Regions from separate parts of the Homo sapiens genome. Here all the other regions are reported to be linked to region 5. Evidence: microRNA targets listed by miRTarBase, many of them from high-throughput screens and not tested one by one. Region 5 holds a microRNA gene; each other region holds the end of a gene's coding sequence.
Evidence for each region. Region 5 holds the annotated microRNA hsa-miR-744-5p (UGCGGGGCUAGGGCUAACAGCA, at 2,385-2,406, opposite strand). A microRNA usually pairs through its seed, bases 2 to 8, with sites in the 3' UTR of a target mRNA and lowers its output. Matches are read on the target gene's strand: a 7mer-m8 pairs with bases 2 to 8, a 7mer-A1 pairs with bases 2 to 7 and ends in A, and an 8mer does both.

Region 1: the mRNA of ATXN2L is a reported target of hsa-miR-744-5p. The part of its 3' UTR that is shown has no 7-base or 8-base seed match.
Region 2: the mRNA of SCAMP2 is a reported target of hsa-miR-744-5p. Seed matches in the 3' UTR shown: 7mer-m8 at 2,644-2,650.
Region 3: the mRNA of EPN1 is a reported target of hsa-miR-744-5p. The part of its 3' UTR that is shown has no 7-base or 8-base seed match.
Region 4: miRTarBase lists ZNF318 as a target of hsa-miR-744-5p. The part of its 3' UTR that is shown has no 7-base or 8-base seed match.
Region 6: the mRNA of CDAN1 is a reported target of hsa-miR-744-5p. The part of its 3' UTR that is shown has no 7-base or 8-base seed match.
Region 7: miRTarBase lists MRPL46 as a target of hsa-miR-744-5p. The part of its 3' UTR that is shown has no 7-base or 8-base seed match.

The regions. Positions count from the first base shown.
Region 1 is chr16:28,835,780-28,839,845 of GRCh38, forward strand. It overlaps ATXN2L (ataxin 2 like), which reads left to right. Exons shown (of 22, transcript NM_007245.4): 22 at 154-1,453. The coding sequence ends at 486. Among named protein-coding and RNA genes, the nearest start is that of MIR4721, 6.2 kb to the right of the region's middle.
Region 2 is chr15:74,841,505-74,845,570 of GRCh38, forward strand. SCAMP2 (secretory carrier membrane protein 2) reads right to left here. Exons shown (of 9, transcript NM_005697.5): 8 at 3,969-4,066; 9 at 2,226-3,713. The coding sequence ends at 3,579. ULK3 (unc-51 like kinase 3) reads right to left here and starts at 1,652. Exons shown (of 16, transcript NM_001099436.4): 1 at 1,500-1,652; 2 at 776-916; 3 at 571-691; 4 at 1-5. The coding sequence starts at 1,601. RefSeq lists enhancers at 646-1,171, 1,240-2,151 and a silencer at 1,414-2,133.
Region 3 is chr19:55,695,025-55,699,088 of GRCh38, reverse strand. It overlaps EPN1 (epsin 1), which reads right to left. Exons shown (of 11, transcript NM_001130072.2): 11 at 1-3,941. The coding sequence ends at 3,733. Among named protein-coding and RNA genes, the nearest start is that of EPN1, 22 kb to the right of the region's middle.
Region 4 is chr6:43,333,420-43,337,485 of GRCh38, forward strand. ZNF318 (zinc finger protein 318) reads right to left here. Exons shown (of 10, transcript NM_014345.3): 10 at 2,651-4,066. The coding sequence ends at 3,739. Among named protein-coding and RNA genes, the nearest start is that of CRIP3, 27 kb to the left of the region's middle.
Region 5 is chr17:12,080,249-12,084,314 of GRCh38, reverse strand. It overlaps MIR744 (microRNA 744), which reads right to left and starts at 2,416; the gene lies at 2,319-2,416. It overlaps MAP2K4 (mitogen-activated protein kinase kinase 4), which reads right to left. Exons shown (of 11, transcript NM_003010.4): 3 at 2,785-2,959.
Region 6 is chr15:42,721,203-42,725,268 of GRCh38, reverse strand. It overlaps CDAN1 (codanin 1), which reads left to right. Exons shown (of 28, transcript NM_138477.4): 27 at 18-125; 28 at 653-1,725. The coding sequence ends at 778. Among named protein-coding and RNA genes, the nearest start is that of CDAN1, 14 kb to the left of the region's middle.
Region 7 is chr15:88,456,316-88,460,381 of GRCh38, reverse strand. It overlaps MRPL46 (mitochondrial ribosomal protein L46), which reads left to right. Exons shown (of 4, transcript NM_022163.4): 4 at 519-904. The coding sequence ends at 769. Among named protein-coding and RNA genes, the nearest start is that of MRPL46, 9.0 kb to the left of the region's middle.

The DNA of each region.
Region 1 (4,066 bases), not on the chromosome of region 5:
TTCTGGGTCTGTTTGCCAGGGCCCGTCTGCCATGGGGACCATCCCATTGCCAAGTCCCTGGTGCCACCCTTGCCATAGTGCTCCCTAACTCTGGCTCTCAGAGTCTGTTTCAGGATTCTGTGGTCTTCCCGGCTACTTTTTTGTTTTCCACAGGCCCATGTCCAAACTGGAATCACAGCAGCCCCGCCCCCTCACCCTGGGGCTCCCCACCCGCCCCAGGTGATGCTGCTGCACCCACCCCAGAGTCATGGGGGGCCCCCCCAAGGCGCGGTGCCCCAGAGTGGGGTGCCTGCACTCTCAGCTTCCACACCCTCACCCTACCCCTACATCGGACACCCCCAAGGTGAGCAGCCTGGCCAGGCGCCTGGATTTCCAGGAGGAGCCGATGACAGGATTCGTGAGTTCTCATTAGCTGGGGGAATTTGGCATGGAAGAGCTGAGGGGCTGCAGGTGGGGCAGGATGCACGGGTTCTGGGTGGGGAGTGAGGGGTCTTGGAGGCAGGGCTGTCCCACAGGGCGCCCGCCGACCTGCACCTGTCTGTGAAGTATGTAGGGTGGGCAGAAGCCACAGTCGCCGCCGCCAGGGGCTTGCTCCTGGCTCTGTCCTTTGCTTCCCTCCGTCCTCGCTCAGTTGTGATCCAGCAGCCCCCCTCCCCACTGCCTCCCCAGCTCTCAGTGACCCCGACTGTCTCCTGACTTAGCCGAGGTAAGGTCAGTGCAGCAGACAGGGCCAGACTGGGGTGTGGGGGGCTGAGCTGGGCACATGAGTGAGGGCTCTGGCTTACTGGGAAACAGCGATTGACCTGTGCTTCTGACAGCCCCCGAGACACCTTGAGGAGGCCGCTCCTTCCCAGACACACCCCCACGCCCCCACTGGACGGCATTGGAGGAAGGGACAGCTGCTTGGGTTCTAATGCTCCTGCTCTCTTCTCTTTCCCCTCCAACCAGTTCAATCTCATCCCTCCCAGCAGCTCCCCTTCCACCCCCCGGGGAACTGAAGATTGTCCTGGCCGCGACCTGAGACCTCCATGAGTGGAGGGAAGAGTGATCTATGTCTCTTCCCCCAGCAGCTCGGACCACTCCCAGCCCCCCATCCCCCCGTTCCCCAGGGGAGCTGGGGAATTCCTGCCAAGCACCTTGAATGGGAGGGGCCTCACAGAGGGCAGGGCCAGGGTCCAGCAGGGGTGGGGGGTTCCTGCTCTGCCCCTGCCCGTCCCCACCCAGTCTTGCCCTCCCATCCTCTCATCTATTCCCCCGCTGGAGACGGAAGATCTTTTATTTTCTATTATTTATAACTTCAGACTTGGGCCCCCTGTTCTTTCTTTCCCATTAACTTGAGTGACCTGTGTGAGAGACAGACAGATGCCCCACGAGGATGGCTGGACAAGGACTTTTACTTTTTATTACATAAAAATATTAAAAAATAAATAAAAAAAATAAAATTTTAAACTAACTTAACCTGCCTGGAGTTTCCTCCTTGGAGACTAGAGTGGGGTGACAGCTGTCAGTCTTTTGTGGCATTGATAGGTGCTGCATTGTGACCTGTTCCTTCACCTCCATGTAAAAATCGTGTCCAGTGGCCAGCCATGGTGGCTCACGCCTGTAATCCCAGCACTTTGGGAGGCTGAGGTGGGCAGATCACCAGGTCAAGAGATGGAGACCATCCTGGCCAACTTGGTGAAACCCCATCTGTACTAAAAATACAAAAATTAGCCAGATGTGGTGGGACATGCCTGTAATTCCAGCTACTTGGGAGGCTGAGGCAGGAGAATCACTTGAACTCGGGTGAAACCCTGTCTCTACTAAAAATACAAAAATTAGCCTGGCGTGGTGGGACATGCCTGTAATCCCAGCTACCTGGGAGGCTGAGGCAGGAGAATCACTTAAACCCAGGAAGCGGAGGTTGCAGTGAGCTGAGATCACTCCATTGCACACCAATGGTGGCCAGTTTTTGAAATCTAGGATGATGGGGAGCCAGATCGGGATCCTGTGCCATGCATTTGAAGGTGGGTTCCAGACTTCATGTGAAGTTGTGTAGTTGATGACTGAGGTTCTGGATGACCGGATGGCTAAAAGCACGTGAGATGGGAGTCCGCTTCCCAGGATGGGACAGCAGTGGCACAGTTCCCAAGGATGCTGTCCCTGACTGGCTCTGGAACTGCTACATAGATAGCTCACCCAGCTGTCTAGTGACTATTTTCTCATCTTGAACTTGGCTTCATCTCAAGGTGTGATTCAAAGTTTCATTTCTAATATGAGTATCTCATGAATTACATACACCTCTTTATGTTGAAGGGTGAATGTTTATGGTCATTGGAATTAAAATCCTGATGGATGTGCAGCTGACTGTGGATGAGAGCTGTAAAGGTGAAGCTGTTAGTGGGAGAAGAGGGGAGAGGATTGGTTGGGAACTGGGCTTACTGGGGAGCAAGAGCAAAATTAGGCATTATGGGTGGGACAAGAAGATTGAAGCATGGGATGTGGAAATGACAGCAGGCTCCAGAGGAGGTAGTTTTTCAAGGAGGTTGAGAATTCTCTCGGAGACTTGACCTTGGTTTCCTTGCCTAAAATGGAGGTGATTTCACCTTTCCAGGATTTTAAGGAAGTGGCTGGTGCTCAGTGGTAGACGGGTGTTTCAGCTCTCACCAAAGCCAGAGAAAGCTGGCTGAGACCAGGACAGGAAGAGTGAAGGCTACAGTATTGGGGAAGAATCCCAGCATATGCAGATTTGGAACTTGGTAATAGGTGTACATGGTGGGGTGGAGAGAAGGGGTTATTAAAGAGGTTAAAAAAAAAAAAAAAAAAAAGGACTTTATGTGGTAGCCACTTGGATGCTAAAAATGGGCGGGGTTGGAGTCCCAAGAGCACTCAGCAGGTAGATGTGGGGTGGTGCAGGAGCTGCAAGGCTTCAGCTGGGCTCAGGATATTTGAAGTGTAGATGGAGAGACAGGTATCTACTATGAAATATGGCAAGTATTACTGGGTAATCTTTCAATTTTTTTTTTTTTTTTAAGAGACAGAGTCCCATTATGTTGGCCAGGCTGGTCTTGAACTCCTGGGCTCAAGCAGTTCTGCCTTGGCCTCCCAAAGTGCTGGGGATTACAGGTGTGAGCCACCACACCCAGCTGAGTAGTCATTTTGATGCTTTCTGGAAGGACTGCAGATTGTACAGCAGTCCGCCCGCATCTGGGGGGGATGTGATCTGAGATCCCCAGTGGATGCCCATAGTACCAAACCTTATGTATACTATGTTTTTTCCTATAGCTATGATGAGGTTTAGTTTCTAAATTAGGCACAATACTCTTGTGCTTCGGGGCCATCACTGAGTAAATCAGGGCTACTTGAACACAATCATTGGAGTGCTGTAACGGTCAATCTGATAACCAGCACGGCTACTAAAGTGACTAACAGGCAAAGGGATGGTTCACGTCCTGACAGGATGGATGGAGCAGGATGGCAAAAGATTTCATCATACTACTCAGAATGGTGCTCAACTTAAAATCTGAACTGTTAAATAGAAAATTCTAGGCCAGGTGCGGTGGCTCACACCTGTAATCCTAGCACTTTGGGAGGCTGAGGTGGGTGGATCATGAGGTCAAGAGATCGACACCATCCTGGCCAACATGGTGAAACCCTGCCTACTAAAAATACAAAAATTAGCTGGGCATAGTGGCGCATCCCTGTCGGCCCAGCTACTTGGGAGGCTGAGACAGGAGAATGGCTTGAGCCCGGGAGGTGGAGGTTGCAGTGAGCAGAGATCGTGCCACTGCACTCTGGCCTGGCGACAGAGCGAGACTCTGTCTCAGGAAAAAAAAAAAAAAAAAAAGAAAATTCCAGCTGGGTGCGGTGGTTCACGCCTGTAATCCCATACTTTGGGAGGCCGAGGAAGGTGGATTATTTGAGGTCGGGAGTTCGAGATCAGGTTGGCCAACATGGTGAGATGCCATCTCTACTAAAAATACAAGTTAGCCAGGTGTGGTGGTGGGTGCCTGTAATCCCAGCTACTTGAAGGCTGAGGCAGGAGAATCACTTGAACCCGGGATGCAGAGGTTGCAGTGGGCCGAGA
Region 2 (4,066 bases), not on the chromosome of region 5:
GCTAGCTGAGGAGCAGGACCCACGAAGAGAGACAGTTCAGAGCCCATTCCCGCCTGCCTCTCGCCTCCCCGGCTCACATCTGCCTCCTCAAGCCTGCACAACCCCAGTTCCTGCCTGGCTGGTCTAATGTTTTCCATATAAGCACCAAGATCACACCACTTCTAGGAGTTTGCCACCCCACCCGAGTGCCCACCCTCCTTCCCTCTGCCCCTTCACAAGTCTCCCCACCTCTCAGAAGCTTCTCTGGATGCCCCAGCCCTTGAGATCCTGCTCTTTTCCTTGGCACAGCACTTGAGTCCTACCTACAGGACTCTGGAATGTTCTACAAGGTCCTTATATTATGTTCTATGTATGGAAGCCTGAACACCCCACAGAGGGGTTACCCCCTCATCTCTCCCACAGCGTCCTTGAGCAAGGGTTGAGTGTATGAGATAAACAGGACCATAAAATTTCAGGCTGTGCAGGAGGCAGCTGCAATGCGTGCCAAGGCTCTAAGCCTGGGGGAGGGGTGGGATGGTGGGGGGCAGAGAACAAGGGACAGAGTGTCAGGCTGGTGTCACAGGCCTTTACCTAATTGCTGCATGAAGACACGCGCCACCTTCTCAGGCAGAATCCTGCGGGTATGGATGAAGCGAGACAGGTCGCCCCCTGCGCAAAACTCCATGATGAGGTAGATATTGTCACTGTCCCACTGTGTTTAGAGGCAGAGAGGCGGCCTGAAGAGAGTGTCCCTTCTCCAGCTCCCTTTGGCAGCGGCCCCGCCCCAGGCTCACACCTGAAAGTCTTTCAGCTGCACAATGTGGGGATGTCGAATGCCCTTGAGGATCTCAATCTCCGTGAGGAGGTTCTCCACCGATGCCTTGTTCAGACTTTTCTTGGCTACACACTTTATGGCTACCACTTCACGAGTGTCCTTCTGCGAGACAGGAGATTTGGGGACTCTGCCTTGAGGGGGCCAGGACCCTTGTCTGACTGGAAAGGCTCTATCTGGTTCCCTCTGTTCCCCCACCCCGCCCCTCCCCGGGTCTACCTACTGCACACCAGCACCGGGCTTCCCAGCTTTCCCTTGTGAGGCCAGTGAGGAATGCTGATTCTGGAATCCTGGCTTCCCGACACAGCCTCAGCCTGGTCTTCTCCAACCCTCGGCTAGCTGATCCATTTCTTTGCATTCTGGAGTGCTCCCGGCAGAGGCATGTCACTCAGGGTTCTAGAACCGCCCACTCTGCCTCCCAACTGGCTCCAGTCCCAGACTCCTCCCAGCCCACCAGGTAACCTGTTTTGAGCCTGTTCTTCAGCCACTGACCCTGCAGGTGGGTGCAGGTGCGCTCTTTAAGACCTAAGCGTGGCAGTCGGCTCCAACCTCCGCCGAGGGTCAGCTGGGGCGAGGCCGGCCTCCCGCCCCTAACTATTCCCACACTGTCGCTAACCTCTCAGAGTCTCCCCGGCCGGCACCAGCCGAGCTAGCTCGGGCGGGCACGGGGCCATCGGCCGGCACCCACCTTGGCGTAGGCCTTGTACACCGTGGCGTACGTGCCGCTGCCCAGGCGCTCGGTGAGGATGAAGCCGTCCAGGCGCGGGGGACCCCAGCCGGGCCCCGCCATTCCGGCCGCCTGCGCCCGCGCGGGCGCTTCCTCGCTGCGGGCGGCGGTTCCGGCGGGTTGCGGGGCGGGCCGAGCACTGGGTGGCTCCACGCTGCCCCCAGCGCCGCCCGCCGGAAATGCAGCGCGCATCGGGGACGCGGATCCGCCCGGCTCCCGGCGCCCCTCCCCTGTCTCTGGGCCTCGCCGGGTCACGCGCCCCGCCAGTTCCTGCAGGGCCCACGTGGGGATACGGAGGCCCCGCGAGCCTAGAAGTTAACAACGGAGGACGGCCGGCGTGGTCTCCGGGGACTCCTAGCGGGCGCAGAGGCGTCTAGAGATCGCCCACGTGAGGGCGCGGGCGGCGGAGCGGGCGTGTGTGGGGGCGACGGCGTCCGGGAGGCTCCCAGGGCCCCTCCCCAGGACCCGCAGCTCTGAAAGGAGAGCTACTGGCACGAGAAGGCGCCTTTGGAAGAGGCCGCGTTGGCTTCCCAGGCCTCCCAGCTGCTTTTCACTTTTCTGAGGAAGGGCCTTGACCTATTTATTGCATCTTAACTGTCCCCGCTCTCCAATCTTAGCAGCGGCGCCCAGCCCCTAATCCTGTGGGCTGCCCCGTCCTCCCAAGTCCACCAGACATGTGGACCCGTGTTGTCTGAAAATGTTTTTATTTTTACTTAAGCACAAAAATTGAGACGTAACATATACATTTGTACATAGAGGGGAAAAAATACCAGAAAGGAGTTCATAAAACCCCAGCCGCTGCCAGTATCATTCAGTGGCTGGGGCCTGCGGCTGTCTCGGGCCCAGAGCCGGAGGCTAGTTTTGTGGGAAGGCACCCCAGTCCACACACCCACTCGGCAGCCTCGAGGGACAGGGTGCTGGTTTTAAGGGTGGACTCCTACGTGTCCCATCACAGTGACACACCCCCCAGGGTGTGAACCAGACTCCACTGGGTATTAGGGGGCCCTCCGAGAGATGGCTTATCAGTCCCTGCTGAGGGATGCGGTTCTGGACTGGCTGGCCCTGCCCTTCCTGAAAGTCTGGATGCTGCTGATGGGGAGCATGGGCGGGGCAGGTGGCATCTGAGGCAGAGACAAAGGCAGCCGTCCCTCGGTTCGGGGAGGGGGGGGGGTAGTCACAGCAAACAGGGCCAAACCAACCACACCAGGACAGGCAGACCCCACCCTCCTAGAAGACGCTGGACGCTAGGCAGGACAGCTTGGGGTCAGTGTCCTTGGTCCCTTCCAGTCCCCAAATCCCAACCAACGGCATTGTACATTCAGAAAGTCTGAAGAGAGTAAGGCTCAGCAAGGGGAGGGCTCCAGAGGGCTCAAAGTGCCATCCCCTGCAGGAGGGTGCAGGGGGATAAAGGGCTATTAATCCGTTTCTCAGGAACACGAGGCAGGGAAGAGCTTAAGGCAACCAGCCTTCTCTGGATCCGTTTATGAGGCAGAGAAGAGCTTGAGGCAACCAGCCTTCTCTGGAAGCCTGGAGACCACTGGAGTGACCTGGGGAACAGATCTGTCCACCAGAACCTGTGAGAGGCTTATTCCCAGCCCAGGCAGGAAGGACTGGGCTGTGTCTAAGAAGCCAGATTCAGGCCAGGCCTGCAGGGTGGGGGAGTCAAGGCCCAGGACCCTGGCAGAAAGCTCCAGCTGGGATGGGCCCAGGTCAGCCTGTGATCCCAACTGTGTGGGGGTGTCTGTGTGTGCACAGGACGAAGAGAACTTCAGTCCCACTGCTTCCAGAGACAAAAGAATCCTACCAAACCATCACCAGAGAAGGAAAGAGAGCTTTGTTTTTTTTTGTACATAGAGGGGGAAAAAATTCCCTGTCCCTCCCGTTCCAGGGAGAGCTGGTCGCTGAGGGAGGAGGAAGAGCCACGGCAAGAACCCTGCCAGGTCTGTGCTGGGCACAACCACCACCACATAAGGCACCCACGGAAAGTGCAGCTCAGAAGGCAGGCGAGAGAAAGGCTGAGGGGGAGAGAAGAGAGGAGGACTAATTCCCCTGGAAGGCTCCTTGGGCAGCAGATGAAGCAGCTCTGTGGAAGGTTCTGCTGCTGAAGATGCCCTGGGAAAACTCCTCCTGGGCCTGCTGGAAGCTGGCCCCTGTCCGTCGGTAGAGGGAGTGCACCTGGCGAAGAGGGGTGGGGTGAGAGAAGCCTGTCCTTTGGGCCCACCAGGAAGCCAGCCATCCAGGTTATACTCCCAAAGGGGTCACCAGAAGCCTGGCACTGCCTGACCCCCCACCCAGATCCCTGGAGAAAGGTACTGGACCTTTGGGGGCCTAGGATGCCCAACTGCAGTGGTGAAAAACATCTCGTGGCAAGGGCAGGAAACGGTTGCCTGCCTCCTCCCATTTGCTGTCAGCCCTGCCCACACCACTCACCCGCTGCAGGAGGAAGACTGAGAGCACGGCACAGAGGGTGAAGAAGCCAGCCACCACCATCATGATGACTGATATGGCCAGGGAATGATTATCCAGTG
Region 3 (4,064 bases), not on the chromosome of region 5:
TAGAACTTAAAGTATAATAAAAAAATAAAAAATGAAATGGGGTGGGGGCCGCTACAGTGGCTCACGCCTGTAATCCCAGCACTTTGGGAGGCCGAGGCAGGCGGATCACGAGGTCAGGAGATCGAGACCATCCTAACATGGTGAAACCCCGTCTGTACTAAAAATACAAAAAAAAATTAGCTGGGCGTGGTGGTGGGCACCTGTAATCCCAGCTACTCGAGAGGCTGAGGCAGGAGAATCGCTTGAACCCGGGAGGTGGAGGTTGCGGTGAGCCGAGATCGTGCCACTGCACTCCAGCCTGGCAACAGAGCAAGACTCCTTCTAGGGGGGAAAAAAAAGGGCATTTCTTCCTATTCAATGAGAACATGAGGAAAAGGCAAAAGGCAGAGGCTGGCTGGGAGTGGGTTTGTGTGTGTAAAATTGAGTTTCAGTATAAAAAAAGATCAAGGCAGGACTGAAAGCCCTGAGGCTGGCATCGCAGCTCCAGAGCGAGGGGCAAGCGTAGGGCGAGGAGCGAGGATAGGGCGAGGGCGGGAGTAGAGCGAGGGGTAAGGCTAGGGTGAGCACAGGTGGCAGGGGACTCTGGTGGGCCTGGACTCTGGTGGGCGGGGTGACCCAGGAGCTCGGATGAAGCTCCTACGGGCTCCAGGAAGGTTCCCTCAAGTGCCTTCCCCACCCAACCCCTAGGCCCTGAACAGAGTCGAGACCCAGGAATGTCCCACGCCCCATCGCTTCACCTGTCCCAGGGAGAAATTCTGGGGTTTTTTCCACTTCAGCCCTCTCTGGGGGAAGACGTCGGGTCAGAAGCACATCTGCTCCTGAGAGCCAGCCGGGAGCACCACCATGACTCTTGCTTAGCCAAACCTGAGGGATCTGAACCTCCTCCTAGGCCCATCCGTGCATGCCCTTGTAAAATCCTTTCAGCAAATGAACCCCGCCGCCATCCCCCCCAACCCCCGCCACCCTCACATCTGATAGGCTTCTTCAGCCTCCACCATCCCCAGGTGACCTCTGATCACCCTGGCCTGCCTTCAGCAAGAATCCTGCTAGGTGGGTTTAGCCGAAAACCCCCGGACCCCTGAGGTTTGCTCTTAGTGATTTTCCATCCACTGATGGTACCTGTACCTGTCTCGATGGTCCTGAATAAAGTCTTCCTCACGGCCATTTAACAAGCTCGCCATCCCACTGTGGGGAGAGAGACACATCTGCTGTAGAAAGAGTGATACACACACAGTGGGGGGAGCCCTCAATCGGGGACAACAGCAGGCTCCCAGCATTCTCCCAGCGTTCAACCGTGTATGTCACTAAGCTCAGGTGCTTGGGCCTCATGGGGGACTCCTACACAGCAGCTCCTGCTGAGCACTTTGGTGGCTGGAATATTCTAGAAAGAGGAATAAAGTAGGAGACACGAGATCTGTGGTGCTACTTTGTAATTCGCACTGTAGGGAAAAGAAGATGCCGAAGATGCTGTAGTTAAGCCCCAAATTTATGTGCAAGCCTCTGGGTTTTTGTCTTGTTTTTCAATCCTGTCTTCTCTGTTTTGCCAAATGAGGAAATGGTGGGGAGAATTAAAGCCTCACACCTTTAACCCCTCCACTGGACTAATCCAACTGTATCATTTTATCTTCGTCCTCAGCTTTTTTGAAGAGAAAGGGAGTGCAGGCTCCGCAGTGCGAAATCGTGAAACTTATCCTTAATTTGGTGAATGGAGGGTCTGACAAGTGAGGGGCCCAGGAGCTATGACCCTGTGGGGAGACCAAGATTGGCAAGAGGGAGGCTCGGCTCGCCTCCCCTTTCCATGTGATCCCACCCAGAGCTGCCGCCTTCAGCTGGCTCTCTGTGCCCTGTGGGGCTCCCCCATCACAACCGCCTAGAGCAGCAGGGTCTCGGACAGCCCAAGCGTAAGGGACGCTTGCTGCTGCCTGGGGACAGCACCCCCTCCCCCGGTAACAGTCCCCATTTCCTCCTGGGAAATGACTCTCCCACAACATACCCAGGCCGGGTGTGAGAAGAGGGCTTCCCCTCCCTGGCTAAGCAAGGGGGATGCTCCTCTGCAACTGAATCTGGAACCGGCTGACCCCAAAGTTCCTGTGTCCCTGGGACCCACCTCTTCCTGCATGGTGTGGTCAGCAATTCCTCCATCAAGCCCCCGACAACCCTCCAGACACCCTGGTCTGCAGGGGCAAGTGGAGGCCAGAGAACGCTCCGACACAGGTCATGACCCAATTCACAGCAAGAAACAGAACCCCAACCTCACATCACCCCAACAGCACTCCTTTTGCTCTGCAATCCCCAGGTGACGTAGGTCTGTCCACCAGGGAGTGGGCACACAGGGTGGCCACGACGCTGCTCGGACACCGCAGTCATGTCCCTCTCAGTGGCCTCCAACACTCCACTGGCTGGGTGCTCCCTGGACCCCGACCCATAACAAGTGTCCCTGTGATGTAGCTGTCTGGCCCCACCCTGAGCCCAGAGCGTCCCCCGGGCAGAAGGGGCAAGAAGTCTGACCCCAGGGGCCTGGCCCCACACAGCCTTCACCCCAGCACCTCTGAGACAAGAGCTGTCGGAGTCACTGAGGGAGCGAACCCAGCCGTCAGGACTTGACCCCAGGGGATCACGGAGGGAGACTCCACATGGAAGAACAGCCTGTTCGGCTTAAAACAGACATGGCCAGATCCCCATCCCTGAGGCCCTGGCTGTGGGGCCTGCAACAAGCTGTCACCTAGCCCTGGAGATGACAGCAACACCCCCCTCACAAGGCGGCCCGAGGATTCTCCCGGATAGTCTCACCAGGTGTGGTCCAGCCCAGGACAAGAGCACACAGAGGAAAACAGCACACAGAGGACAACCAGGAGGCGCCTGGTGGTCCACTCAGCTCAGCCGGCAGAGGCTGACCCGGCTTTCCAGGAGTGCAGGGATGGATTAGTGATGCTTGCGGTGGGCCCGGGCGATGGCGACGGTGACCTGTGTTGCACATGTGCCATCTCTCAGGATTCTTCTCCTCCCTGAACCCCAGTGCACTCTCTGACCTCATCCTGGTGTCCCCTCAACACAAGAGCAAGGCCTCCTGCACCGGAAGCGTCTGGCCATGAGTGGCCTCCCGACCACCTGGACCTGTGTGGGCTACAGCTCCGCCAGGCCTCGCACAGTCCACCCTCAACCCAGCCATCCCTTGACCTGGGAGGGTCAGGGAAATCAGGGCTTCTGAGACAGAGGGGCTGGTTGCCAGCCACCCCCGAGAAAGAGATGTGACCTGAGCCCTGGGTCCCTGGATGAAGGGGCTCTGGGGGACACACGAAATCACAGATGGGAATCTGGGAGTGCCAAGCCCGTGGGAATTGCCATTTATTCCCAAAGTTGCCAAAATCATCACCAAGGATTCACCGAGGGTGCGTGAGCGGGTGCGTGAGGGGAACGAGGAGGCTCAAACACTGACTGGGGGTTGGGAGTTTGGAGGGAGGGGGAATGGGTGGGGGCCCCAGCCACCCCTCCCCCTTCTAATGCCACGGGAAAGGGGTCCTCCTCTGGCCAGCTCCCCTCCCCAGGCCCCATGTCCAGTTTCTCTCCGGGGAGGTGGGGTGGGAAAGGAAGAGGGTGTAGTGTGAGTGGGCCCCAGGAAGGGGAAGGGCACTGGGGGTGGGGATCCCCCATTTCACATGCACTCACAACACTGATCTCCCAGGGAGCCGGAATGGGGCAGCCGGATGGAGCCAGGCCCCCTTCCGCCCTGGATTATAGGAGGAAGGGATTAGTGTTGGGGGCCGGGGGGCCCGGGGGCATCATGGGGGGCAGGCCAGGGCCCCCGCCAAGGGGAGAGATGTACGTGGGTGGCGCTCCAGGGACGGGAGGCACAGGACTGAGACGGAGCTGGTTCAGGGTGAGCGTCGCGGGAGGCGCGGGCTGGAAGGGGTTGGTGACGGAAGGGCCAGTGGCTGGGCCTCCTGCAGGAAGAGTAAACCAGAGACACGGAGTGGAGTCAGTGGCGCAGCCCACCTGTGTCCATCCAGCATGTGCAGGCAAAGGGCGAAGTGTCCCTGCCCCGTGAGGCACCTCCTCTGGTGGAA
Region 4 (4,066 bases), not on the chromosome of region 5:
GGGGAGCATATATTAATCAAAGAAACATAAATGTAAAATTACAACCACATTAAATGCTACAACATAAACATACATGTTTTATATGTATTCTTCTGGAAGTGTATATGGGTTGAGGGCAAATCAGGAGAGTTGTGATTTTAAGAGTAGAAGATTTTCATTATAAATTCAACTTCGTGGCTTATCGATGAATATTGTATACACAACTTAGTTAAAAATTACATAAAAATTACTGCAATTTTAAACTCTAAAGAGATGTGCTCACAAAACTATTTGTCCATGTTCTCACATAAATCGTTAATAAATGAAGACTTTGTTTAGGTTCTTATCCTAGATTTAGTATGTAAGCTTTGTTAAGGTGAGAACCAAGGTTTAGGGATATATATTAATATATCAACAAAGCTTGCCTATATATGTTTATATATATATTATCTATATTATATATATAAAAGAAACTATACTATATATAGTATATATAAAACTATATACATATATACATATATATATATGTAAAAGAAACTACCTCACTTATTTCTGTTACAGGCTACATCCTCTCTGAACCCTCCTCCAATTTTTAAAATTACACTTTATGTTCCTATTGGATGCATGTGTCCTGTATGTCCACCTCCCCACCCCATTCTTCCTCAGTCCTGGAATCTGGCAGACTGATAAATTGACTATGTGCTGGCATGCTCTGCTACCAAAATACTAACTTTCTGACTTTTTAGAAAGATGAAGTGTCATGGGCGAAGTAATACTTAACTATATTATTCAGCAATATTAGCAGAATATTATGTGCCCTGTGAATATAATATGGCTTGTAAAGCAGGAAGCCCCCCATTTGCAAGGCCAGGGGGAATTTTTAGCGGGTTATACACCTTAGGTAAAATTAGGTATTTGCCCAAATTTAAACATAATTGCTGATCATCTGCTTCTCACAATTGAGGATATCTGATAAAAGTTGTTCCTGATGTTTGTAAAATTTAAAACATAGTTATATTACACCATAAGCTGCATTTAAAATTCAGGGCCCATTTCTTCCATGTGCCTAAGTCTCCTAAGTTGAAAGTTTATTCAGTACTGTGATAGTAGAGAACAACAAAAAAATATGCTCTATCTCCAGCTACTGGGTTAGAATTCTGTCCTTCCTTTCACCTGTCTTCTCTGGATAGGTTCCAAAGCTAGATCCCACTAACCAAAAGGAAGGAGGCAGCAACACTTCCTGCCCAGAATACAGAATCCTCAAAGTTCTCCCTCTGCTGGTTCAAGGAAGATATAAAGAATGTCACTCCCGTAACTCTTAAGTGAGCATTATTTTTGAAAAAGCCGGATTGGTAGATGCCTTTGGTGTAAATCCTGAAGTTATCCAGAGAATACAAGAGGAGTTACTACCAAAGCTTAGGCTCAAAGTACTCCAGCCCTAGCTACCTGAACTAGTTCTGCCCTTCCTACAATAAATTTTGCCTCTTTTTCTCTTCTCACTCAAGTAGCCCCCTCCTAACCTACAGGGTAAGATTTCAATGCCCTCTGAGGAAGTAAGGTTAGGATTGGGATCTTGATATGGTTACCTCCTCCCAACTCTTTCTCTAAAACCATCAGTCTCCCCCTAAAGGGAAGTGGAACTAAGTGAACAGGACTGAAAATCAGCACAAACTGGCATTAAAAATTATGTTCCCTGAATTCCTATAGATAACCTGCTATAACAGGGAGGGAGTAGTTCTCTGGGAAAACAAATCTCTCTGAAGCTTACTTGGGTTTAAACTCTTCTAAATGGCACCTTTTGAGTTAGTCTATGGTTTCCAAGCAAGAAAACTGCATTGAACTCAGGCTTTGTCCTAAAAACCAGGGCTAGAAAGGTGACATGGGCAGGATACCCTGACCCTGTACATATTGGTGCTAGGATAAAGATAACGATTCTTATCTCAAAGGAAACAACACAAAACAACTCTGTGACACAGTAAGGTAAACTAACTTGTCTAAAATCACAGCAAGGTAAATGACTGAGGCACAGTCAAGGATCTAGCTCTCCCAAATCTGTGTCCTTTCCATAACATAAGAGAGGCCAGAATGACTTCTAAATTGACATTAGTCAAAAAAATTAAAAATCCTTCCCAATGTTGACCTAGGGATTTTATAGCTCTGTACATAAGGAAACAGGAAAAAAAAAATTGGGGGAGCGGGGAGGTTAATCCAGATCAGCAATTTTGTATTATCTTTGAGGAACAGGTGGGTAAATAAGACTCCGAAGGCCCTGTTGAGTCAGGTTATAAACTGCTGACAACAGGGATACAAGAGGAAACTGGGACAGAGAAAATCTGAGGACTGAGCTCCCTAATTCCCAAGAGCAAGAACCTGATTGTCCTAGGGGAGCTCAGTTCCCAGAAAATCCTACGGAGAGTCAACACAAAGGTATATAAAAAGCTTCACAACAGGAAGATACCAATACCAGACAACTGTTGCCTACTCACTACCCACCCAGGCTGCGCTGGGGCAGACTATATATCCTAACATTCTGGCATGAAGTAGTTCTGACAAGTGAGGAAAGCATGGTTGCGGGTGCGGATAGACAATAGGGCAGCAGGGATTCACTGTTCTAGTTTTCCTTTGGAGTTCAAATGTGTGTGATTTCAAAACAAAAATCCAGAAGGAAACATGAGATTAATGCATTTATTCCAAGTAATTAACACATTAAAAATAAAGTTAAACTTGTCCAAGCCAACTCATAAATTCTTTAATCTTTTTAACAAAATATACAACCCCAAACATCGTACTATGGTTGAAATTAATTGGGAAAGGAGGAGGTAGAGGAAAGGATACATATGGGTTTGTGGAACAGGGAATGAGTTCAATCTCAAGACAAGTTTCAGAGATCTTCTACCCCTTCACAACACAAATGGCTGCTAAACAATTTAATACAAAGTGTTATTGGATCACAATACAATGAACAAAGGCCATTTCAAAAATAAAAGTGATCTCAAAAGCATATCTGCTCCTGGCAATGAACCATGAATAAGCCTTACCGATTTGTCGTCTTCTAAAAGTAAGCCTGCCAGATATTCTTCCATGTTTATTTCCAAACAGGTTTGTGGGTTAGCAGGACAATGCATCTCAAGAAAGGCAACAGAGTAAGGGAAGTACAGGAGTTGACATGCCAATAAGGGGTGTAAACAGTAAACAAAAGAGCTACTCACGCTGCATTTCAAACAATGTTAAGGCAGGCCCATCCAAATGGAAGCCTAAGAGATGAACAATTCTTCCAAGTTTTCCATTTCAGCAAGCTTTCTGGTGTTTTTCCCAGAGATGCATCAACTGCCCAGGAAATTGGGTAGGAATACAACACAGCAACTGGAGAGGTCAGCTGCCTCCATCCTCCCCCACATTTCAGAAATGGCAGAGTCAAAGCCAAAATACAATCAAAGCACACTATGTGGTGAGCCAGTTAGACATGTGATTTTAATGACAAAGTGGGAGAAAATAAATTGGCCAAAAAAATTAACAAAATACATTTTTACAGATATATATATATATATATAAGTTGTTATCGATTTGTCTGGTGTTTTAAGGGGAAAGGGAAAAGGAAAGGAGGTAAATTTTTTAGCTTCCATGAACATTTACTTTAAGATGCTGACTGCATCTCTTGGTGTAGGTTCCAGATGAGATAACAAACTAGTCTTGGATCATCTGGGCATCTGATTTCTAGAAGCCAATGATTCACTCACAAGTAGCTCTAGGTATTTATTCTTAGTTGTGAACACTGGATTCTGTGTGGTCCTGGATGGCACCAACTGTAGTTTCCTGTTCAGGCATTCCCTGAGGGACCATATTGTCTTCAATTACCTGCTCCCTTGGAGGGGACCTTGACACTGGAGCTTTAACCAAATTCAGAGGGTCGCCACTGTCATCATCTACTTGCAGAATTGCCACCTCTGTGGTGGATGCATTCGATATTTCTAGCTGTAATGGCCCCAACTCCAGGGAACTACATTTAGAAGGGTCACCTGGCTCAGAGAGTGGAGAACACAGTTTATCTTTTTGAACTCCAGAGGTCCGTGTGACAAAGTCAACAAGG
Region 5 (4,066 bases):
ATAGCTTGGGAGACTGTCCTCAAACCAAACATCAAAAAATTGTTTTAAGTATAACTCTTACAATGTTACCTCACTAAATCTGATTATATCAAAACTGATTTTTAGATTAAGTCTTTGGGGTAATTAACTCTGGTTACTAAGAAGTCACCTTTTTCAAATATTTCTTATATATGGCAAAATAAATTTGGGGAAGGAATTCCTCAGAACTAAAAATGAGGAATAATACAAAGAAAAAAATCAAGCTAATATCACAGTTCACTTTTCTACAGATATTGCAAGTAAATCTTAAGGATCATTTCCAGCTTAACATCTAATAATGCAATCCTTCTTTATTCTCAAAGTGTGTATTAAGATGTTAGCACAGAGTTACTTCAAGCGTGTTTCTCATTTCACCAACAGCAATGGAAAGCTCTCAGCTGTGTGAACCACCGTCTCATGGTTCCTTTAAAACCGTAAAGTCTCAAATCAAACACCTCCTTAATCATACATTGATTCTGTATATTTGTGCCTGTCAATCCAGTCAATGTACCTAAATGAGGAATGAATGAACTCTCTCAAGTGTGATGAAAGACTATTCTTCTTTGAAGAAACCAATAATAAATGCATTCTTTAATTCAGAGATGGCATACATCTGTCATCAATTGGTATCAAATTTTAATGCATATTAATGCAAAAACACTTATTCTTCCAGTATTAATGAAGTCATGGAATCCAAAGGTACTCCTCAACTATATGTTAATTGATGTGTTGTACTGCCATCCTCTCCCATCCCCAACTGCTATGCTTGTTCAAGAATTCGAGATGGTAAACGAAGCTAGGTAGTACCATGTGGTGGGTATACATGTGACAGCAACCAGTTTGTAGGTCTCATGACTGCCTTGAAAGTTCTTCAAGTACAGCTGGGATTTTTAATAGCATCCCAACTGGAACTGTCACAGTAGCCAGTAGCCACTGATAATGTAACATTACAAATGATGGACAACAATTTCCTATTTTCATTCTTGAATTCCTACAAAACTTGAGTAAGCATTATACAACCCAAAATATTATCAAATTAATCAGTGAGAAAAACTTTTAAGTGTCAAAAGGAAGTACCCTCTTTACCTTTATGACCTTTTTAACAATGGCTAAAATCAATCCATATTACTAAAATGTTTAATAATGTTCATCAACAAAGTTGAAGCACACATAACACAAACTGTAAAAAGCAGGAAATAATTTTTTAAAATTACTTTCCCTAGTACCTGAAAGAAAAGTTTACAACTTTAACTATATAGGAAACCTTTCCCTTAAGATCCAGCCAACTAAAACTGGATGTCACACACAGGTAGCACAAAGGGACAACACAACATTCATCCAGGAGTCTAAATAAAATGACTCTTTCCACTTACACTGCAGTGGCACAAAATAGGAATACAGAAATCATTTCACATTCCAATAAAACATTTTATTTTAACACATAATGCAGAGTTCTTCACCTGTGCATCTTTAGAGGTCTACGGTTTGTATACAAAATGTTGTGTATATACACCTGCCTATGAAAAGTCTATAGTTCTCACCACATTTTAAAAATACAGCCAAAAACAATGTTAGGAACCCATAGAGAGAATCATAAAAATTTTCCCTACCACTAATTTAACATTACTTTCATATGACCCAGCAAAAAGAAATGCTCAACAGTGAAGGATACTAAAATAGTTACAGTAAGGTTTGGCTCACAACAGACTTCTACACAGAAAGCATTTTATTTTAATTTAAATTCATTCTCAAATGTCAAGAAAAAACTAAGGACTCTTATCAACCACTCTGACAAACTCTCAAAATAGGACACTAATAGGAAGATGATTAGCTTGGACTATATGCAAATCCATTCTGAATTCTTGTAAACTGAAACATTTTTGTTCCCATAGGAATTTTAAGCTCAGAGAGGGTATGGCCACAGCTAGCTTTTTTTCCTTTGTTTTTGCAAGTTGTTCCCCCTGTTGCTGATTTTCCTGAAATATCTTACATACAGCAAAGATTTGTTAAACATCTAAACAAACAAATGAATAAATTACAATTACATGAAACTAGGAGTCAGATGGAAACCACCAGTTCTTTACAGGTACCAGCATAAGCTTGCCAGGTATTGTCTATGGATCAAATCTCTGTTTCTGGCCATTTTTTTTTTTTAATGAACATATTAAGTGGCACGACACAATAAGGACAAAATGTGACAACATTATCACAAGGTATGCATTTCAGTACAACTTTAAAACCAGGGAACAGGGCAGTACTGAGTAGAGATGAAATAAACAAACAGAAGCCGAGCCGGTCAGGACCGAGTAAGGTTGAGGTTAGTGGCAACAGCATGTGCGTGGTTTCCAGGAAACCTTCAGTAAGACTGCTGTTAGCCCTAGCCCCGCACCTTGCCCAACCCAGTGTGCTGCGTCTTCTTCCAGCTCCCGCCTGGCTCAGTGCAGCACTGCCCTGCTCCCAGGGGTGCAGCCGCCCAGCCTGAACTCACCTTGGCAGTAGAAGGGCCTGAAGTTTAAAACATGTTAATGCATCATGCCAAAAATGCAATCAACATGCACACTTCATACACTCATGTTTCCAAAGAGATAGAAAATGTGCCACCAATAAGAAACCTCTACACAGAACACCCTCAAAGGAGTTGGAGAAACAATTTTTTAAACACCCACATTTACCACAAAAGTAGGAACACAACAACAGTGGTATTACTGCACCATGAAATTTCACCTAATGGATTAAAGTACCAAAAATAATCATGGCATCACCTACTTTAACTGCCATTATTTGCCCACTTGGTTTGTGGACCATTTTGTTGACAGAACCATAAGCTCCTCGTCCAATTTCTCCAAGGTCTTTCAAGTCCTCTGCAGTGAAATCCCAGTGTTGTTCAGGGGAGATCTTCAGTTTTCCTGATGACTCAATGCTGTGTGTTCTCAGTCTCTCTCTGTTAAAATATTGGGAAGCAATTTTTCCACATTTTAAATAGGTTTTAACTTTTTTCTTTTAGTACTGATTAATGTGTGGGAAAAATGTTTTCTAAATTACTAAAATAGTCTGACCTCCAGGTTTTTGAAGTTTTTCATTTGTGTCATCCTGGTTTTTTACACACTGGATTAAGAATGATCTAGATTTAGGTAGTCAATAGACACAGCTTCAACGGGATTCATAAAAACAAATTGCCAAGAAGATTTTTAAAAATTCCCATTTATTGATTAAACTAATTCTGCAGATCAGTTTTCATTTCTAAATATAAGATCTTATTCAAACTTGGATGATGGTTTATCCAAACAGCATTATCAAGTGAGAATCCCAAGAGCTGCAAACCTTATTGCGAAAAAGTTCTTACCCTATCTTACCCAACATTAGTTATTCCAGTGCCTCAATCTTCAGTTAGTACAACTATTCCCAAGGTTTGCTGTACCTTACAATCACCTGGGGGAGATTTTAAAAATCTCAATGCCCAGGTATCGTCCCATAGCAATTACATCTGAATTATCCAGGGACAGGAGTCAGAAAACAGTATTTTTAAAGACCCCCAGATGATTCCAGTAATGTTTGGGAACTAGTGCCTTAGTATACTGTCCTGTTCTTGTTAATACCATCCTGAGGTGGGAGAACAGTTAACTGAATAGCTAGCTGGCTCTAAGAGGAAAATTGCCATGTGCTATTCAAAATTGAAATTTTCAGCCCTCGTTCGATAAAGCAATGGGATAAAAAATGAGTGGCTCGTAGACAAAAGAGCTCACTCATTACATATTTCCATTAAATAAAAAATCATCTCCAAAATCTCAACCTGGAGATCAAAGTATTAATAACTTCTAACCATGCTTTGTAAAAAAGTAAATCCAATGAAAAATGTAAAATCAATCTGTTTCTCTCTCTTGCTCTCTCTCACACACACACCAAACCCCAATGTGTAGGAACAAACTATCAACCATACACACAATGAAAGAATTCATTAAATATCAACTACATTTTTCAGTTTCATACTAAATGATCAGGATCTCTTTTAAACTCTGATCCTATGATGCAAACAAGCAAAGTTTATGTG
Region 6 (4,066 bases), not on the chromosome of region 5:
CTCGGTGTGTTTTGCAGTGGGACTTGCTGCTATTCTTGCTACGGGAGCTGGTGGAGAAGGGTCTGATGGGACGGATGGAGATAGAGGCCTGCCTGGGCAGCCTCCACCAGGCCCAGTGGCCAGGGGTAAGGAGTCTCCTGTCTTTTAGGTGGAGAGAGAACAGGTGTTACATATCCCATCTGTCCTGAAAGGAAGCAAGTGATGGGGCCAAACTAAGTGGATTTTTGTCAAGAGTCTTCAGGGCCACCCTGAAATTGTCCCGATTTGAGTAGTTATTATATGAGGGACTGTGTTAGTGGGAAGACGGACGAAAGGCAGGCAGTTAGTTGGAAAGCAGCACAGCCCATTATATGGGTTTTTAAAATTAGAATAACCTGGATTTTAACGGGAATAATAATTTCAAGATGAAGTAGATGCACTCAGTAGTACTCAAAAACTGGTCAAGCCTGTGCCTCCATCAGAGTTCGCTCCCTGCCATAACTTCAGCCTCCCAGAGTACTAACAAACAGACAAGGTTTCATGTCCATTTCAGTGTGGAGGGCAGTTGAGAAAAAATAATATAGCCAGCCAGGTTGTGGTCTTTAGTGACAAAGGATGAGCCATTGAGAATTATTACATGCTGCCTTTTCCCTCATCTTTCTATGTATTCCAGGACTTTGCTGAAGAATTAGCAACACTGTCTAATCTGTTTCTAGCCGAGCCCCACCTGCCAGAACCCCAGCTAAGAGCCTGTGAGTTGGTGCAGCCAAACCGGGGCACTGTGCTGGCCCAGAGCTAGGGCTGAGAAGTGGCCCTGCCTTGGGCATTGCACCAGAACCCTGGACCCCCGCCTCACGAGGAGGCCCAAGTGCCCAATGCAGACCCTCACTGGTTGGGGTGTAGCTGGGTCTACAGTCAGACTTCCTGCTCTAAGGGTGTCACTGCCTGGCATCCCACCACGCGAATCCTAGAGGAAGGAGAGTTGGCCTGATTTGGGATTATGGCAGAAAAGTCCAGAGATGCCAGTCCTGGAGTAGAAGAGGTGGTGTTTGTTTATCTCTTGGATACTAAATGAAATGAGGTGTGTGGGCTTGTCAACACAGAATTCAAGCCTCATTTGCTATCCCAGCATCTCTTAAAACTTTGTAGTCTTGGAATTCATGACAGAGGCAAATGACTCCTGCTTAACTTATGAAGAAAGTTAAAACATGAATCTTGGGAGTCTACATTTTCTTATCACCAGGAGCTGGACTGCCATCTCCTTATAAATGCCTAACACAGGCCGGGTCTGGTGGCTCATGCCTGTAATCCCAGCACTTTGAGAGGCCTGAGGTCGGCGGACTGCCTGAGGTCAGGAATTCAAGACCAGCCTGGCCAACATGGCAAAACCCCATCTCTACTAAAAATAAAAAAATTATTAGCTGGGCATGGTGGTGTGTGCCTGTAATCCCAGCTACTCAGGAGGATGAGGCAGGAGACCTGCTTGAACCTGGAGGTGGAGGTTGCAGTGAGCCGAGGTCGCACCACTGCACTCCAGTCTGGGTAACAGAGCGAGACTTTCTAGAAAAAGCCTAACAAACAGATAAGGTAGGACTCAACCAACTGAAACCTGACTTTCCCCCTGTACCTTCAGCCCCTGTGCAGGTAGTAACCTCTTGAGACCTCTCCCTGACCAGGGACCAAGCACAGGGCATTTAGAGCTTTTTAGAATAAACTGGTTTTCTTTAACAAGGGCTTGATGTCTAATCATTGTCACCTGTCTTCTCCCTTTAGAAGGCTGCAGTCTCGGGTGGGCTGTAGGTGGAGCGCTGTAATTGTGGCTTTGCTCTGTGCATTACAAGGTGAGCTACCTTGGCTCTTAGAAATGCCTGTATATTCCACTCTAGAGGGCTAGTCTCTGGTGGCAATATCTATTAATTTAATTTATCGCCAGTGGTACTGACTTCTCCTGTGTAACTCGCTTTATTTGTGGGAGAAAGGGTTAGGATAATGTAGTTTCCACACACAAGATATTCCCTACTGAACCACATGGTGGGGCAGTGTTCTTGTTAAGCTTGTTAAGGCTAAGGTGTTTGTTTGATTGATTTGGCTTGGAGTTTCTCAGAGCAAAAGCATTGCTTCTCGATTACAGCTGTATCAAGCTCTATAAATGAGCCACTGATTTTGACAGGTTCACACCTGTAATCCCAGTGCTTTGGGAAGCCGAGAGAGAGGACTACTTGAGTCCAGGAGTTAGAGGTTACAGTGAACTATGATTGTGCCACTGCACTCCAGCCTGAGCAAGAGTGAGACCCCCATCTCTTTGAGGGGAAAAAAAAAAAGCACTACTGTGATCATGTGCATTAATAACCAGGAGTTGGACTGATAATATAATCCTCAGGAGGACCTAAAGGGGTCCACTTGTGTGACCATGGTAGAGCCAGGAAATCCCATCAACCTAGAAAGTAAAAAATGGGAGTTTTCCTCAGTCACCACCTTGTGATCATACTTCTCCCAAACACCATGCCTTTCCCTTCTCCTCAGCTCAGCTACTCCTTTAACAAGTTTCTATATCTGAACCATTTTCCCCTGATCTCTTCATTTTCAAAGGCCTTTATCTTTATCCTTTAAATCCAATTTGTTCTGAATGCCTGGGAACCAAAAAAGCTTTAAGGAATGCTTTCTCGGCCGGACACAGTGGCTCACACCTGTAATCCCAGCACTTTGGGAGGTCAAGGCGGGAGGATCACTTGTGCTCAGGAGTTTGAACCAGCCGGGGCAACATGGGGAAGCCTCATCTTTAAAAAATACAAAATTGGTGAGGAGTGGTGGTCCATGCCTGTGGTCATAGCTACTTGGGAGGCTGAGGTCAGAGGATCACTTGAGCCCAGGAGGTCAAGGCTACAGTGAGCCATGATCACACCACTGCAGTCCAGCCTGGGCTACAGAGCGATACCCTGTCTGTCTCAAAAAAAAAAAAAAAGCTTTCTATGCCCAGAGACCAGCACTGGGTGTGATTAAACCATAGCACCGCCCCCACCCAGGAAGCTTAGGGTCAGCGTCAGGCTTGTGGCTACTCCTTGACTTGTTCCAGAGGACCCAGCTGAGGTGTGTGACATGGAATGGGCAGGAGAGGAAAACCTGAAACCCCTAAGGATGCTGAGACTGAAGGGCTGGGCCATAACCCAGGCCTGGCTTAAGGCCCACTGAGTTAAAAACAAGTTCTTGGGAATCTGAATGGAAATTTAACATGTTCCCGATGAAGGAAACTTCCTGCTGGCCTGTGTGAGCCTTAAAGGCTACTCTAAGGATTATGGAGACAGGCAGCTAGTGGGTCAGTGAACTAGATTCTGTATGTCTGCTCTCTAATTGTCAAAGCCAGCTGTTTATAAAATGTGGTCCCCAGACCAGCAAACTTCAGGGTCCCCTGGGACTTCTTGTTAACACAAATTCTCTGGTCCTTCTCCGGGGCTACCAAACCAGTAACTTGGGGTAGGGCCCATCCTGGGGCATAAGAAAGCGTTCAGGTGATTCTGATGTATGCGAAAGTATGACAACCACGCCATGAATCCAAAATCTGACTCCACTTTTGCTTTTTGCTACAAGATCCCTCTCAATCTTTCGCTTGCTGATTCAGTCAGGTCTGGTGTTGCTTTTTTTTTTTTTTTTTTTTGAGACAGAGTCTCACTCTGTTGCCCAGGCTGGAGTGCAGTGACACAATCTCGGCTCGGCTCACTGAAACCTCCCCCTCCCAGGTTCAAGCAATTCTTGTGCCTCAGCCTCCCAAGTAGCTGGGATTACAGGCACATGCCACCACGCCTGGCTAATTTTTTGTATTTTTAGTAGAGACAGGTTTCACCATGTTGGCCAGGCTGGTCTCAAACTCCTGACCTCAGGTGATCCACCCGCCTCAGCCTCCCAACGTGCTGGGATGACAGGCATGAGCCACCATGCCCGGCTGGCTTCTCTATTAAGGCGGGCAGGGTCACCTCCTGGTTATCCCCTGACTCAGATTCCCATAGGTGGCTCTGCCTCAGAAGCCCCAGGGCACTGTGGTCACTGTTAGGTGTGGCAGTGACTGTTCTGGATTCTCCCCTTTAGTTCTTAC
Region 7 (4,066 bases), not on the chromosome of region 5:
TGACACCCATTTTAAAGGTGGATGAACTTTGTTTTACAGACCAAATGTCCTCGTCCTTCACCAGCAGATAGCGACTGGGCTGATTCACCAACAGTTAGCGACTGGGCTGATTCGCCAACAGATAGCGACTGGGCTGATTCGCCAGCAGATAGCGACTGGGCTGATTCGCCAGCATAGCGACTGGGCTGATTCGCCAGCAGATAGCGACTGGGCTGAATGTAGGAACTAGGTGCTCTGACTCCCAGGTGTGATTGTAACTGTGTTGCTGACTTTCAGTCTAAAAACAGTAGCTTGGCACATGGGAGTGAGCCTGGTGAATCTGGACTCCATGGGCCAGGAGGCATTTGGATTGAGAGGGGAGGAGCCTCTTTTCAGGAATGGCTCTAGTCCTATTCCTAGGGATTGATTTTACCTCAGGGCCAGATCTTGCAGGGACCCCCTATAATTTTGGGAGCCAGAGTAAACAGATGGCTGTATCCTTACCTTCCAATTGTGATTTTTCTTTCCTCCCTCTTCAGAAAACAACATGGAAGCCAAGTTCCTAGGAAATGCACCCTGTGGGCACTACACATTCAAGTTCCCCCAGGCAATGCGGACAGAGAGTAACCTCGGAGCCAAGGTGTTCTTCTTCAAAGCACTGCTATTAACTGGAGACTTTTCCCAGGCTGGGAATAAGGGCCATCATGTGTGGGTCACTAAGGATGAGCTGGGTGACTATTTGAAACCAAAATACCTGGCCCAAGTTAGGAGGTTTGTTTCAGACCTCTGATGGGCCGAGCTGCCTGTGGACGGTGCTCAGACAAGTCTGGGATTAGAGCCTCAAGGACATTGTGTGATTGCCTCACATTTGCAGGTAATATCAAGCAGCAAACTAAATTCTGAGAAATAAACGAGTCTATTACTGTGTTGGTCTCAGCTGATTTGCCCTTTGATGGCCCAGTGAAGAGAGCCATCTCTTAGGGTGTCTTTCCATTTTTTTCCCAAGGTGATCACTGAGTACTGGATTATATTACAGTGCGTCACTGAGTTACTGGGCCCAGGAAGAAAGGACAGAAGGAAATGAATTGACTTCCCGAAAGCCTTGAATTCTGTGAAAGCTTCTCTAGGCCCTTGGGAAAAAACTAGTTCTATATAGTTTCTTAGCCATTTCCAGTTTGTTTTTCCTTCCCTCTGCACTTGATATGAAGGTGTTTTAATCTAGCCTGGGAAATAATCCTTCCTTCTTTCCCCCCCTTCCTAAAAGCATTTTATTTTAAAAAGAATTGAGTTATGTCTTAACCTTTTTTGAAACAGTCATGTGAAATGTGCAGTTAGTTTATCTCCATTCTACAGATGGAGGAATCACGGCCAGGTTGTGACTTAGCCCAGAGTCATACTGCATGTGCCTGTTGGTGCTAGAGGAGAATGCTGACCCCAATGCCCCTCACCTCTGGGGCTCTTGGCTCTTCAGTGTGTTGTTTGGGTCCTCACTGGTCCCCAGTGCCTGGCACATACGAGGCACTCAGTAAACATTTGTTAAGTGAGTGGCAGAGCATGGGGAACTCAGGCATACCTTTGTCTGCCCAGAATAGTGGTTTTAGTCTGCAGTCCTGGATTCCCATCAGATGCTTCCTGGTTTCGTCTCAGACGGCCTGGGTTAAACAGGCTGTGAGCACATGAGATGGGATTTCTGTTTCTGCATCAGCTGCAGCCTTGTGTTCTTGCCCAGGGTCAGGGAAATTGCTTTCTTAATCAAAATTGAGGGGCCTAGGCCTGATACTCCTCTGCTAACCTTTTTCCTCCTGCATGTGTGCTCTCCCCTGCATGACTGAGGGGAGATGTCTCCTGGCATAGGCTTGCTGATGGTGAGCTGTAGTGGCGCCTTTGTAGTGAAGCCTGGGCACAGCCACAGGGCCAGGATGCACTTTCTGGGTTTTGGAGTGACTTGTGTGTGAACTGTATTGCATATTCTTAGGGCCACGGGCACCTCTGACCTAGAAGGGAAGGAATCACCAGAGTGAAGTGACTATTTTCGTGACCGTGCATGTCTGTAACAACATTGTTTTTTTGGTGAGAAATAGCATATGTGCAATTGGGAAATAGAGAAATGGTGTCAGAATGACCCAAAGTTAAGTTAGATTTTTCTGCAGAACATTAATGTTTTTAAATGATCAGGGACAAGATTGAATAGCTTAAGAAAAAAGCTGAAAATTTTCTAGAAGCACCTTCCTTTATTGCAAGTAGGGGCTGGTTTAGTAACTTCTAGAAGCACTGCTAGCCTTTCCATGATGTTCAGCTCTCAGGGGAAACTGTGAGTGGAATGGAAGAAGCTGTGAAGACACCTCACCCACCTTGTTTTAAAAAATTGATGAAGAAGGCCCTGTCCTGGATCACAGTTTTAATTTTGATGGAATGCATCTCTGCTAAGATTACATATCAAAGAACCTACATCTCAGGAAGCAGTATAAGCCCCAGGATTTAAGGCTGCTGGGGACTGGTGTACAGGTGGTGGGGGTACTGCATTAGCATCATCATTAGGCTTCATTCTCTTTTGTTATTGCTCTGGTTACAGAATTCCATAGGTTTTGAGTGGTCTGCCCCAACCCCCTTTTCTGTTATTTTTGGAGTGTGATATTGCAGAATGCAAGATTTTTAGCATTATAGTATAAATAACTATATTTGCTGAGTGCCAGCTTGAATCTTCTACCGGCTGGCAAACATGACCAAAAAATTGTTTCTAGTGTATCCTTTGGGGGAAGATTGCCAGGGAACAAAATAAGATGCTATGTTCTCAGTGTGGGAGGACAGCGTAATGTGTGTGGTGCTGTGGGGATTAGGAGTTCCAGTTTGAAGTGTGTTTGTACAACCTAAGAAGAGAAATGCCTCTGTGTGTGTGTGTGTGTGTGTGTGTGTGTGTGTGTGTGTAACATGTACAACAGACCACCCAGTTCACTGAAAGGATCCTTCAGTTGTTAAGGTTTAGCCTTCGCCTCTTGGTCATTGTTTTCCCAAATGATTTCTGGTCTCCTTGTTTTCACCTTTGCTGGTTCTACAGAGAAAATACTGCCCTGCTTACAAACTTGTTTTCCTGGTAACTTATTTTCAAGGGTTACTTCCTGCTGGGCCATTTCTATGCCTTGTATGTGCTTCTACACTTAACACTTTATAGGATAATTAGTTGTTAATCTGGCTCCTATACAGGTCAAATATCCCTTATCTGAAATGCTTGGGAGCAGAAGTGTTTTCAGATTTCAGGTTTTTTTGGATTTTGGGATATTTGCATTATACATAATGAGATATCTTGGGAATGGGACCCAAATCTAAACATGAAATTCATTTATGTTTTATATACATCTTATACACAGATTACCCGAAGGTAATTTTATACAATATTTTAAATAATTTTGTGCATGAAACAAAATTTGTGTTAAGTACTTGATGTGTGGAGTTTTCCACCTGTGGTGTCATTGAGGCCCTCAAAAAGTTTTGGAGTTTGGAGCCTTTTGGATTTTGGGGTTAGGAATGTTCATCCGTACCTACTGGGCTTCAGAAACTGTGTGCAGATTAGCTCCTTTCCCCATGAGCACTGGACTTGGGGTCAGAAAACCTGGATTTGAGTTTTTATGACCTCAGTTAAGTTACTGTTACTGTTGATGACAGCGTAGTGACTCCTGAGTGCCAAGAGCCTTGTGAGTGCCCTTACTTACAAGCTACGTTGTTATTTAAACCAGCAGGGCAGGCATCTTTATCCCTATTTTATACATGAGAAATAAACTCAAGTTAGTTAGCTTACTTAGAGTTACTTCCTAGTAAGAAGTGGGGCCAGAATTCGAACCTAGACCTGTATACAAAGGTAGTTCTTAACTTTTCTTAACTTTACCTTTCTCATCTATAAAATGAAGATGATACTTCTTCTCAGGTAATGTGGTAAGTTATGCGAGAGTACTTAGCACCATGTGTGGCTTGTTATAAACACTCAGCAAATGTTTCCCTCCTTCCAACATACTTAGGCTCCTGAATTCTGCTCCTTCATTTAGCTGTAACATCTTTAGCTTTTACAACTCCCATTCTCACCTTTTCTAAGTTA